Linked DNA regions of Homo sapiens: region 2 is linked to region 1. The links come from fine-mapping of genetic effects on gene expression. A gene starts in region 1. The other region holds a variant in brackets. All regions are shown on one strand. Distances are between the middles of the regions. Region 1 holds the start of OR2M4 (olfactory receptor family 2 subfamily M member 4). Region 2 has its middle 8.7 kb from the start of OR2L8.

Evidence for each region.
Region 2: its variant is fine-mapped to the expression of OR2M4 in prefrontal cortex (GTEx, PIP above 0.99).

Annotation. Positions count from the first base shown.
Region 1 is chr1:248,229,199-248,234,593 of GRCh38, reverse strand. OR2M4 (olfactory receptor family 2 subfamily M member 4) reads right to left here and starts at 3,177. Exons shown (of 2, transcript NM_017504.2): 1 at 3,014-3,177.
Region 2 is chr1:247,937,473-247,942,867 of GRCh38, reverse strand. It overlaps a transcript of OR2L13 not described here and the pseudogene OR2X1P. Among named protein-coding and RNA genes, the nearest start is that of OR2L8, 8.7 kb to the left of the region's middle. The variant C/T (reference allele first, on the strand shown) is at 3,152.

The DNA of each region.
Region 1 (5,395 bases):
CAGGGCAAACAGGCAACCTATAGAATGGGAACTGAAAACAAAACACCGCATGTTCTCACTCATAGGTGGGAACTGAACAGTTGAAACACATGGACACAGCGGTGGGGGAACAACACACCCTGGGGCCTGTTAAGGGGGTTGAGGGGACAGAAAGCATCAGGACTAATACTTAATGCATGTGAGGCTTAATACCTAGGTGACGGGTTGATAGGTGCAGCAAACCACCATGGCACACATTTACCTATGTAACAAACCCGCATGTTCTGCACATGTATCCTGGAACCTATAATAAAATACAAATTAAAAAAAAAAAATATTTGACTCAGCCCAGTTCAAGATGGGCAGAACTCAGGATGTAGTTGTGTGGAGCAGGGAGCACTACAAGAAATGCATCTGGAGAAATATAAAGAATCAGAGTATTTAAATACATTTCAATTTTGTTTCTAATTAAGCAAATATCAAAGAGGAAATTTATGTTGTGGACTAAAGATGTGAAGTGAAGTAAAATGATTTTGCATTGAGAAAATATCTTGGACATTGCACATTTGATGCTTTGAACAGGTTAGATCTGCGAGCCCGAAGATCATGGAGCAAACACCTTCTTTATCCAAGGGAGCCAGGGTAAAACCCCAGGCAATAACAGTGGAAGAAGAAGATGGTGGAAATAAAATCAACCATCAGGTCTTTGTAAAAAGCTCTCAATTATTATCTCTAGCCCCTCCCCCGCCTTTTTTTCAAACATGGCTCTAAAACATCATATTGTAAAACAGTACCCTGGAGTCCCAAATTAATTATATCCCAAATAAAACTCAATCCAAAGCTAGTCCTGCTGTTATTTCTGCCTGATATACATAACTGCCACCAAATTTTTTTTGAATTTCCAGATTTCAAAGCTTGAAATGATGAAATGTCTTTGTTGTTATTTCCTACTACTATTTTTCAAAATGTATTTAGCTGTATAGAAACATCAATATTTTTGCATACTCATATAATTTTTTTTGATACTGACTATTTTCTGAAGATTATTTACCATTGTGAGTGTTTATCCTTGGTGTTTATTTTTTATTCCACTAAGAAATACTAAGCAGGTAGTAGTTTTCAAATTTATTCTGTGGAATTCAATGAAATTATAAAGAAATCCAATTATCTCCTCTTTTTTCTTGGATGTATCCATGACTCATCCCATAAGTAGACATATAGCAAGCTTTCCTACTTCATATCAGCAAGCTATATATTCAAATTTGTACATCAAACCAAGTATTATACACCCTTAAGGCCAGAGCAGATTCTGTTACATCTTAATGGTATGTGGCATATGCCTATCACAACACTTTATTTATAAAGTGAAAACTAGTTTGAAATCCTTTTGCTGCTAACACCTTCCCCAGGAAATGTTCTGTTTATATCTTGGTACTCTAAATGAACTTCTGCTGATTATAATTAATGGTAAAATCCCTTTTAAAGCAGGAAAACTAAATAACAGAGACCCCTTTACTTATGTTCATGACACACAAAAAGTAACATGGCTTTATTTTATCTTAACTAAATTAAACTGTTATGTCAATATTCCAAAATAAAATTTACATTATCCATTTTAACGTTTAGAAATAGAAGAATGTGATAAATAACAAGATATAGCAAATGTTGAACTAGAGAATAACTCCTCAGCTGGTGACACATTCATTCATTTGTATGATTACTATGTTCTAGGTACTTCTTTTATTTTAATCCTGCAGAGATGTAGAGGGAATCCAAATTTCCTACAAGAATATATAAAAATATTGATGCCTCTCTAAATGAATACAAAATCTAGCCTCATTTTGAAGGTATCAACATAAAGAAGGAGCAGTACCTTTCTTTGCTCTTCCATTTTAAGAATAGAATTGCGTTACAATGTCACATGAAATTGTAAAATCCTCACATTGCTAGAACTATTTTGATTCTTCCATATGATTTTATGCCAATTATTAATGAAAAATGGAGAAGAATGAGGAAAATGATAGAAGGCACTTGACTAAGTGAGAGGAAGAATTAAGTGTCTGGAAGAGAGGTGAAGGCATATGAGGAAAATAAGTGCTAAAATTAGAGCTAAAATAGAAATAAAAAGAAAACAAAATAATATTAAGAGGGCCTGAAGTGATAAGAAATTTTGGAATATTAATGGCGATCAGAGAAGGAGAAACCACATAAACTATGAAGAGATCTAAGTGGGCACAAAGTCTTTGGAAAGAAGCTCAACCCCACTGAGTCCAGCTTTTCCCTAGACCTTGTGATTTTTACCAACCTGAAGATTTCCAACCACATATTGTAGCATATTCAATGTGTCCAGATTTCAAGAATGTCTCACACACTGTGGAATTTAACTAAATCAGATTTTATTAAATTTTTCTTTACTTCGTCTTTATAACATTGATTGTCAGAATTTTATGAATTAGTATATTTCATGAAAAATTAAGAACACAAATAAGAAAACTGGGTACTTTGTGGGAGTGAATCACTTCCCCAATAATTTCTAAACTAAAAATTTACACTGGGTGGTATGTAGAAAATTTTTAAGTCCAAATTTTCATGTATGTTTGAAGCAGTAGATAGACACCACTTGGTATATGATTGTTTTTGTAAATTCATGTTGAGGTGTAGATCCACCAGGTAGAAGATAGTTATGTTTCTCATAAAGCTTCAATAAATATTCAATAAATTAAAATAACCATTAAGAATACTATGTCTCTCTTTCTTCTTTTCCTTCATTTTTAGTATGAAACAGAAAGAGAGTCCAGGATTGCAGGAGAAATGAGGACATTTCCAGGATACTCCACAATTAGGTAGTTGTGAAGAACTACCTAATTGTAATAATCAGGTTGAGGAAGGCTTACACTTGTGTGATTCTGTATAGTGTTCCAAAAGCTTTTTAATGCACATGAACTCGTGATTTTCCTCAATAAAGTCATATAAGGTCAGCACAAGACATAACGGAATTTTTTTTCTTTTAAAGAGTGTTATATGTCTTACTCACAGGTGGTGATCAAGGGGAAAATTCGCCAAATCAGTTCTGGGTTCTTTATACTCTGGAATATAATAATCACTGCCTGAGCTGTATTACAACCTTTTCTTCTTTCTCTTCTAGAAAAGATTCAAAAGCAGCAACTCCAGTAGTCCAAATGACCCACTTGTCCGAAGGCCTATCCACCCTACAGCATCATGGACCTTAAATTCTATACCTCCACAAAATGTTAAATCCCCTGACATCAATTATAGATGGCATGCCTTCTTTCAGAATTTCTCCTAGGAAACAAAATCCATGTGGACCCCAAGGCTCTAGTTACTTTTTGCCAATACTGTCATTCTTTACTTGCTATAAAGTCATAAATGGCTGCCTACCTTTCTTTAGGAAGTAAATTGTGTTAATGAGAAACTTAAATCTTTACAGATTATTAAAATGCGATTAAAATTAAAACAGGGAATATTTATTACAAAGTAAATGAAATCTGTCAACCTGCCTTCTCAATTGTGTTAACATTTTTAACTTATTTCTAGTATATTGTATCAAATACTTAAGCTGGGCCGGGTGCAGTGCTTCATGCCTGTAATCCCAGCACTTTGGAAGTCCAAGGCAGACGGATCACAAGGTCAGGAGATGGAGACCATCCTGGCTAACACGGTGAAACACCATCTCTACTTAAAATACAGAAAAAAAAAAAAATTAGCCGGGCTTGGTGGCACGTGCCTATAGTCCCAGCTTCTCAGGAGGCTGAGGCAGGAGACTCGCTTGAACTCGGGAGGTGGAGGTTGCAGTGAGCCGAGATCGCGCCACTGTACTCCAGCCTGGTGGCAGAGTGAGACTCCGTCAAAAAAACAAAAACAAAAACAAAAACAAAAAAACACCAAATGCTTAAGCTGATATAAATGTAAATAAGCTCTTAGATGCCTAAACGTATGCAAGCATGTGATTGACAATTTAAAGGGGCACTAAAGACTTGTATGTGGCCTATATCTTTAAGATATATCCTTTGCATTTTCCAGTAAATTCACTATACTAATTCAAAACAAGTCTACATTTGGTCTTGCTTCTCTCCACTCTCAAAAGCTTTCATTTGTCTGCAGCAATGACTTTTTTTAAAGTTTAATTTAAGTTCTGGGATACGTGTGCAGAACATGCAAGTTTGTTACATGTGCCATGGTAGTTTGCTGCACACATCAACCCATCATCTAGACTTGTTTAAAATTTATTTATTTTTATTTATTATTATTATTTTTTTGAGACGGAGTCTCGCTCTGTTGCCAGGCTGGAGTGGAGTGGCACGATCTCGGCTCACTGCAACCTCCGCCTCCCGGGTTCAAGCGATTCCCCTGCCTCAGCCTCCCGAGTAGCTGGGACTACAGATGCATGCCACCATGCCTGGCTAATTTTTTTTTTTTTTTGGTATTTTAGTAGAGATGTGATTTCACCATGTTGGCCAGGATGGTCTTGATCTCCTGACCTTGTGATCCAGCCTCCCAAAGTGCTGGGATTATGGGTGTGAGCCACCATGCCTGGCCATCATCTAGGTTTTAAGCCTTGCATGCAACTCCTGGGGAAGGCATGAGTTGAACAGGTGAAGAGTAGCCAGCTTTCAACGTGGATCTCCAGAATTCTGGCAGCACAAGACTCTATGATTCTCAAAGATACTTGAGCTGCAAGGAGAGCTACTTAGAGAGATGACAGGGGCAGGACTCCATCCTGCGTAAAGCCCAGACAGTTTGGCATTGAAGTGACTGCAGTGGATCACAGCCAGGGATGCCCATCCCCCCAGGCTCACCAGGCTCTTCTATAAGGCTTTGGGCGACTGTCAGAACTGGACAGAGCAGATTGGTCTTGCCTGTGGGACAGGGCCAGTCTAATCTGAAGGCTCTTCATCTGCCAGCCTCTTCTGGGTCCCCAGCCTGGCCATGCCTGCTTGCAGCACAGCTTTGGATGCCCAACATATGTGCTTCCTGGGGGCTTTCATCGTCACCACCTTGCCACAGACTGCTCCTGTCAGAGAGCTCCTGCGGACTGGCCCTACAGACATGCACCAGCTGACCTATAGCTCCCCCAGCTGAAGCCTTCCGCTACTGCTTTGCTGGGACACGCCCACTGCTTTCTAAGGGAATTCATCTCCCATCCCTTGCAGGCACAGGTATGCATGTACTCCCTGCCACCCCACTCTACCAGCATGAGTGTACCCTGCCTCCTAGTATTCACAGATGCACAGACAGCCTGTTGCACCCCTACCACTAACACATCTGTGTGCACTGATGCTAGCAACCCCCACCACTGCCAGAGGCCCACCACCACTTATCTGCCACAAAAGCCACTGTGAAAGTGCACAGACACCACTGCCCTGCTCCTGCTGGTTCCCTAGCTCTGAAAATGCAC
Region 2 (5,395 bases), 290 kb after region 1:
TTGTTTAACAAGAACAAAGTGTTAGTTGGAGACAATGAAACTGTTTTGGATATGCACGATAGGGATGATTGCACAATATAAATGTGCAATGACACAGAACTCTACACTTAAAATGGTTAAAATGGTGTTTCTCTTATATATATTTACCCTAATAAAAATCATTTAAATGCACTGAAACTATTCTAATTTAATTTCCAAATACATTTTTTAAAAATTTTGGCAGGTTTCTGCTTCTCTGCAGAGCAATTTATTTTCAGTTACTTTATGACTTTGGGCAATTTTTTATAGAAAATTTAGAACACCAAATTATTTTCATAAATGTCATTAGGAATCAATAAGAGACTGGGATTAAGACTAATCCAATATTATATAATTTATATTACTAGTTTAATTATTGGCAAGTAGAACATGTAGTACACTGAGTCAGTTTCTCAGACAAGCTCGGTAGCCCCACTGGTTCCGTGGACCCACTGGAATTCAGGATCTAGAAAACATTTTATGTAGAAAACTTGAGGTTTCCTAATATTAAAGATGATATCTAAAGAAGCAATTAAGGGAAATGAGGACCTTGTGACAGGGGCTACATGACTTTTAAGCACTAAGCAGCCACACAAAATAGGTTATTGGGCAAGCTGGTTCATGCTTACTGTATGCTTCTACTAAAAGTTTATGCTTTTGGTTAAAAACCCAGAATTTAGTTTTATTCATTTTGTGAGGATGGTTTCCAGATGATTTGCACCCATGAGTTTGAGACCAGTCTGGGCAACTTATTCCAATTATTTTTAGGCCCAATATGTAAGTGAGATCATGTAGTTTTTTTGTGTATGTGTGTATCTGAAAGCCAGTCTGGATTGAAGGACAGAAAGAAAGGAAACCAAGACTGGTACTGGGAGGCTACAGTCATAGTAACACAATAATTCCCAGTATTTACCAGCTTGTGAGACCAAATGGGAATTAATCATGATTGGGATTCTCACTAGGAAGGCTCCATGCCACAAAATCTGAAACATACAGAAACTTTAAGATGCCGAAGAGAATAAGAGACATTCCTGTATCCCTGCCACACATTGTATTCATTAATGAAATGAAGAGACAGCCTTTGTACACAGCTCTGAGTCACACTCCATCACTAGGTTCTATAGGTACCAATGCTTGTCCATTTGTTTCACAAATTCTTTCATGACAAGGTCTCTCTCTTTCATGACAAGGTCTCTCTCTCTCTCTCTTTTTCTCTATCTCTCTCCATTCGGCGTCTGTCCAAATAGCACCACAGGAATTTGTTGGTTTAATTGAGGAATCAAGACCAAAATCCATCTATTTTTTTCATCTTCCATGTCTATTTCTCCAAGTATCATGCATATAACAAACTTCTTACATATTCCATATCTCCTTTACAATGACCATGTAAATAAATAAATGAGGGGCATGGTAATGCTAGTTCATCAGAAAGTCTAGTATCCATTCACCATTCTTTATATATCTAAACTCTCTTTTGACATGCCTCAGAGAGCAAACCTTTCAATATCTATGATATAACCCAAATACTTACTCCTCTACCTGACTTATAAGTCTCCAAAATTAACAGCAACAAAATAAAATTGATGAGCAGGACCTAACTAAATGAAAGAACTTCTGTGCAGCAAAAGAAACTACCAACAGAGGAAACAGCCAACCTACAGAATAGGAAATAATATTTGCAAACTAAGCATCTGACAAATATCTAATGCCCAGAATATATAGGGAAGTTAAATAAATCAACAAGCAAAAAACAACCCCATTAAAAAATGCACAAAGTACATGAACAGACACATCTCTGAAGAAGACATACAAGTGGCCAACAAGCATACGAAAAAATACTCAGCATCACTAATCATCACAGAAATGCAAATCAAAACCACAATGAGACACCATTTCATACAAGTCACAATGGCTATTACAAAAAATTTAAAAAAAAGCACAGATGTTGATGAAGCTGCAGAGAAAAGGGAATTCTTATATGCTGTTGGTGGGAATGTAAATTAGTCCAGCAGCTATGGAAAGCAGTCTGGAGATTTCTCAAAAAATTTAAAAAGGATACCATTTGACGCAGCAATTCCATTGCTTAGCGCGCGCACACACACACACACACACACACACGCACGTATGCACACACACACACAAAATCATTCTACCAAAAAGGCACATGCATTCATATGTTCATTGCTGCACTATTCACAACAGCAAAGACATACATTCAACCTAGGTGCTCATCAACAGTGAGTTGGATAAGGAATACCTATAGGTTTTCTGTTAAATTCAACCCAAAACTTTGATAACAATTATTGTTACTGTCTTAAAGTTTCCAATTATAGAAGGCAAAGTAACACTTTCACCCATTAAAGCTTGCTATGATACCTTTATATTTTGTTAAATACTTTATGATATTTATTAAATATACAAAATCTAGTTAACTTGATAAAATTAACTTAAAACATTTACCTCATTAAAATGTTTTTCTAGTTTTTCCTATTAATAAAACCATTTAAAAGTATTCCTAATAGAAACATTTATTTTTCTCTTTGCAATAACTTTTAGGATAAATTGTTAGAAGGGTTTGTAAAATATAAGCCTGTATGTATACATGAAATAAGACATAATTTTCAGGATATTCTTAAATATTGTATTCATGCTTCCAACAAAGAATGAGAAACTTGATTTGACTACAATCAATGTATGTAAGTATGTGTATGTATATATGTGTATGTGCATGTATTTTTCACTTGAGGAAACTAAAGTGTCAAAACAAACCATTCAATGAATAATGGTAATTTCAAGTGGAGTTGTAGATTTTTGAAAAGAAACTGATTGTGAGACTTGAAATACAATTTTAGGAAGTTTCATAAAAACACAGATATTATATTAGTACATGTTTTTAATATAATGGTTTGATTGTATTTCAAATGTAATTCTTATATATTCTTACAATTTTAGTGGGAGGGTGGTGGAAGCCTTAGGTTATCTTTGTCTTTCTAGAGTGTGTTGAGTGATTGAAATCGGTACCCACAAGAGGAACAATACATTTTTAGACATGCATTGAAAAAACAAACATATGTAAAAACTTTATTATTATTGGGGTTTTGAAAATATCCACATCTTTCTACACTTAGAAAGA[C/T]AGAAGGTTCGGTTTTCTTTCCAAAGAAACTAACAACACTCTATAGACATTGAATGTGGAAATAGAGGGAATACACAAGTGAAAGGAATTTTCCTATTCTTTTTTTTATGTAGAATGTTGCTCTAGAGCATATTTTTCATTGCCACCAGAACACTGTCAGTGCCAACGCTGTAGACGACAGGATTGAGTGTAAGTGCAAGGAAAGCATAGAATATTTCTAGAAACTTAACCTGGCCTGAAATGTGGATGATTTAAGTCTCATATACATATGTGAAAATGAATGAGTCCCAGTATGTTACAACTGCAATCATGAGGATGGACCAAGTGGAAAATGACCTTTTCCATGCCTGTGATAATTTCATCTAGAGGACACCTCACAGAATTTGGACAGAAGAAGCAGAAATCATAGAGAAAGGAATGAGCAAAAATATGATGCTGCTTACATTAACTCCTCATTCACCCTCTAGTGTTTCTACATAAGAGAATCTGATGTAGATATAAGAATATATATTTCTTTCCTAAAATAAGTTTCAATTTGTTTACTTACTAAGCCAGGTAGCAGTTTATTAAGCAGAATCGATTTACTTAGGCACTATAGAGACTAGTGGCTAATAGCCTCTTAAACTCTCTAAGCGAATACAAAATTTTACCTTATTTTGTCTAATTAATGTCTTGCATCCTTTACTTATAGCATAAGAACTCAATAGAAAAAGCTGCGTTTCTTCTCAAATGAATTGCCACAAAAGTTTAAAGGACATATCCAGCTACCAGCGACCTACAACGGAATGTTCAAAAGACTATGTGTATCTCCACCACAATACCCAGGTATCTGAACACGCACCACTACAAATGCATGTCTTTAGATTGTGATAGGCTTTACCTTTAAGCCTAATTATTTCTATGTGCAGTACTTTAGGTATGTGGTTAATGTTTAAAATATCTTACTTTCCACTTCCAATTTCATCCAAGTATGCTTTACAATCCCACACTGATTGAACCATGCTCTTTACACTCTTTATTAAGAAAAATATATGTGTGTGTGTCAGTGTGTATGTGTGCATGTGTGTGTGGGCATGTTTATTTACATGAAGTCTTCTACTACCCTCAATGTAGGCGTTTCTATGTTTCTATATCCCCAACAGGAAAAAAATGTTTTTTAGCCCTATCACAGATTATTTTTGTATTTTAATCTGGAAATTTGTAAATCTATGAATTCTGACTTCTAAACTTCTATATCATCCTCAGATCTGTTCAGCAGAATGACTTTCTCTTGCTTACAATAATATCTTGCTATTCGGATTTTTACTGTCTCTGATTTCATGCTGCTCTTGGGTCCACATTAGGTATTATTATGAGTTGTAAAAGCAGGCTTTAAAAAAATACAGCACCTGATGCATCTAATATTAACATTAGCACTTCCAGTCAATTTTGAACGTCTCTTAGCAATACATTTTTATATATCATTATATTAGTAATTTTACTCATTCTCTACTGAAATAAAACTCCTTAGCACACCAGGGATAGGAGACTGTTACAGGACTGGAATCAAGTAAAAAAACTCAATTGTCAGGGAAAAAATGTTATTAATATATAATAATTGCTTATTTTATGTCTAAATTATGAACATTAAATAGTTGTATTATTAGAAGATAATTTCATAGTTTATTTAAGGTCCTTAATATATATTGCCACACTGTTCTTTTTAAAATGTTTGTACCATATTTCATGTATGCCTACAATATGTTATGATGTCCAATTCACCAAAATATGGTTAACATTTATTACTATTGTTTTTAATTTTCCAATTGTGAAAGGCTAATCATTTTTCATTAAAGTTTCATATATATCTTCATATTTTGTTAAATATTTATTTCTATAGTATAAAACATTTAGTTGGCATGCTATAATAAAATTAACCTGAACATTTATTTCATTAAAATGTGTTTTTCTAGTTTTTGCTATGAATAACATTACTTAGGGGAGAGGCGCTCAGGGGAGTGGGTCCCAGCGGCAGCTGAGCCTGGGAGAGGAGGCCCCAGAGCCAGCCCCATCCCTGAGCTGCTGATGGGAGGGGAGGAGTCCCCTGAACCAGCCCCGTAGCTGAGGGGTTGATGGAAGAGGAGGCCCCAGAGCCAGCCCCATCCCTGAGCTGCTGATGGGAGGGGAGGAGTCCCCTGAACCAGCCCCGTAGCTGAGGGGTTGATGGAAGAGGAGGCCCCAGAGCCAGCCCCATCCCTGAGCTGC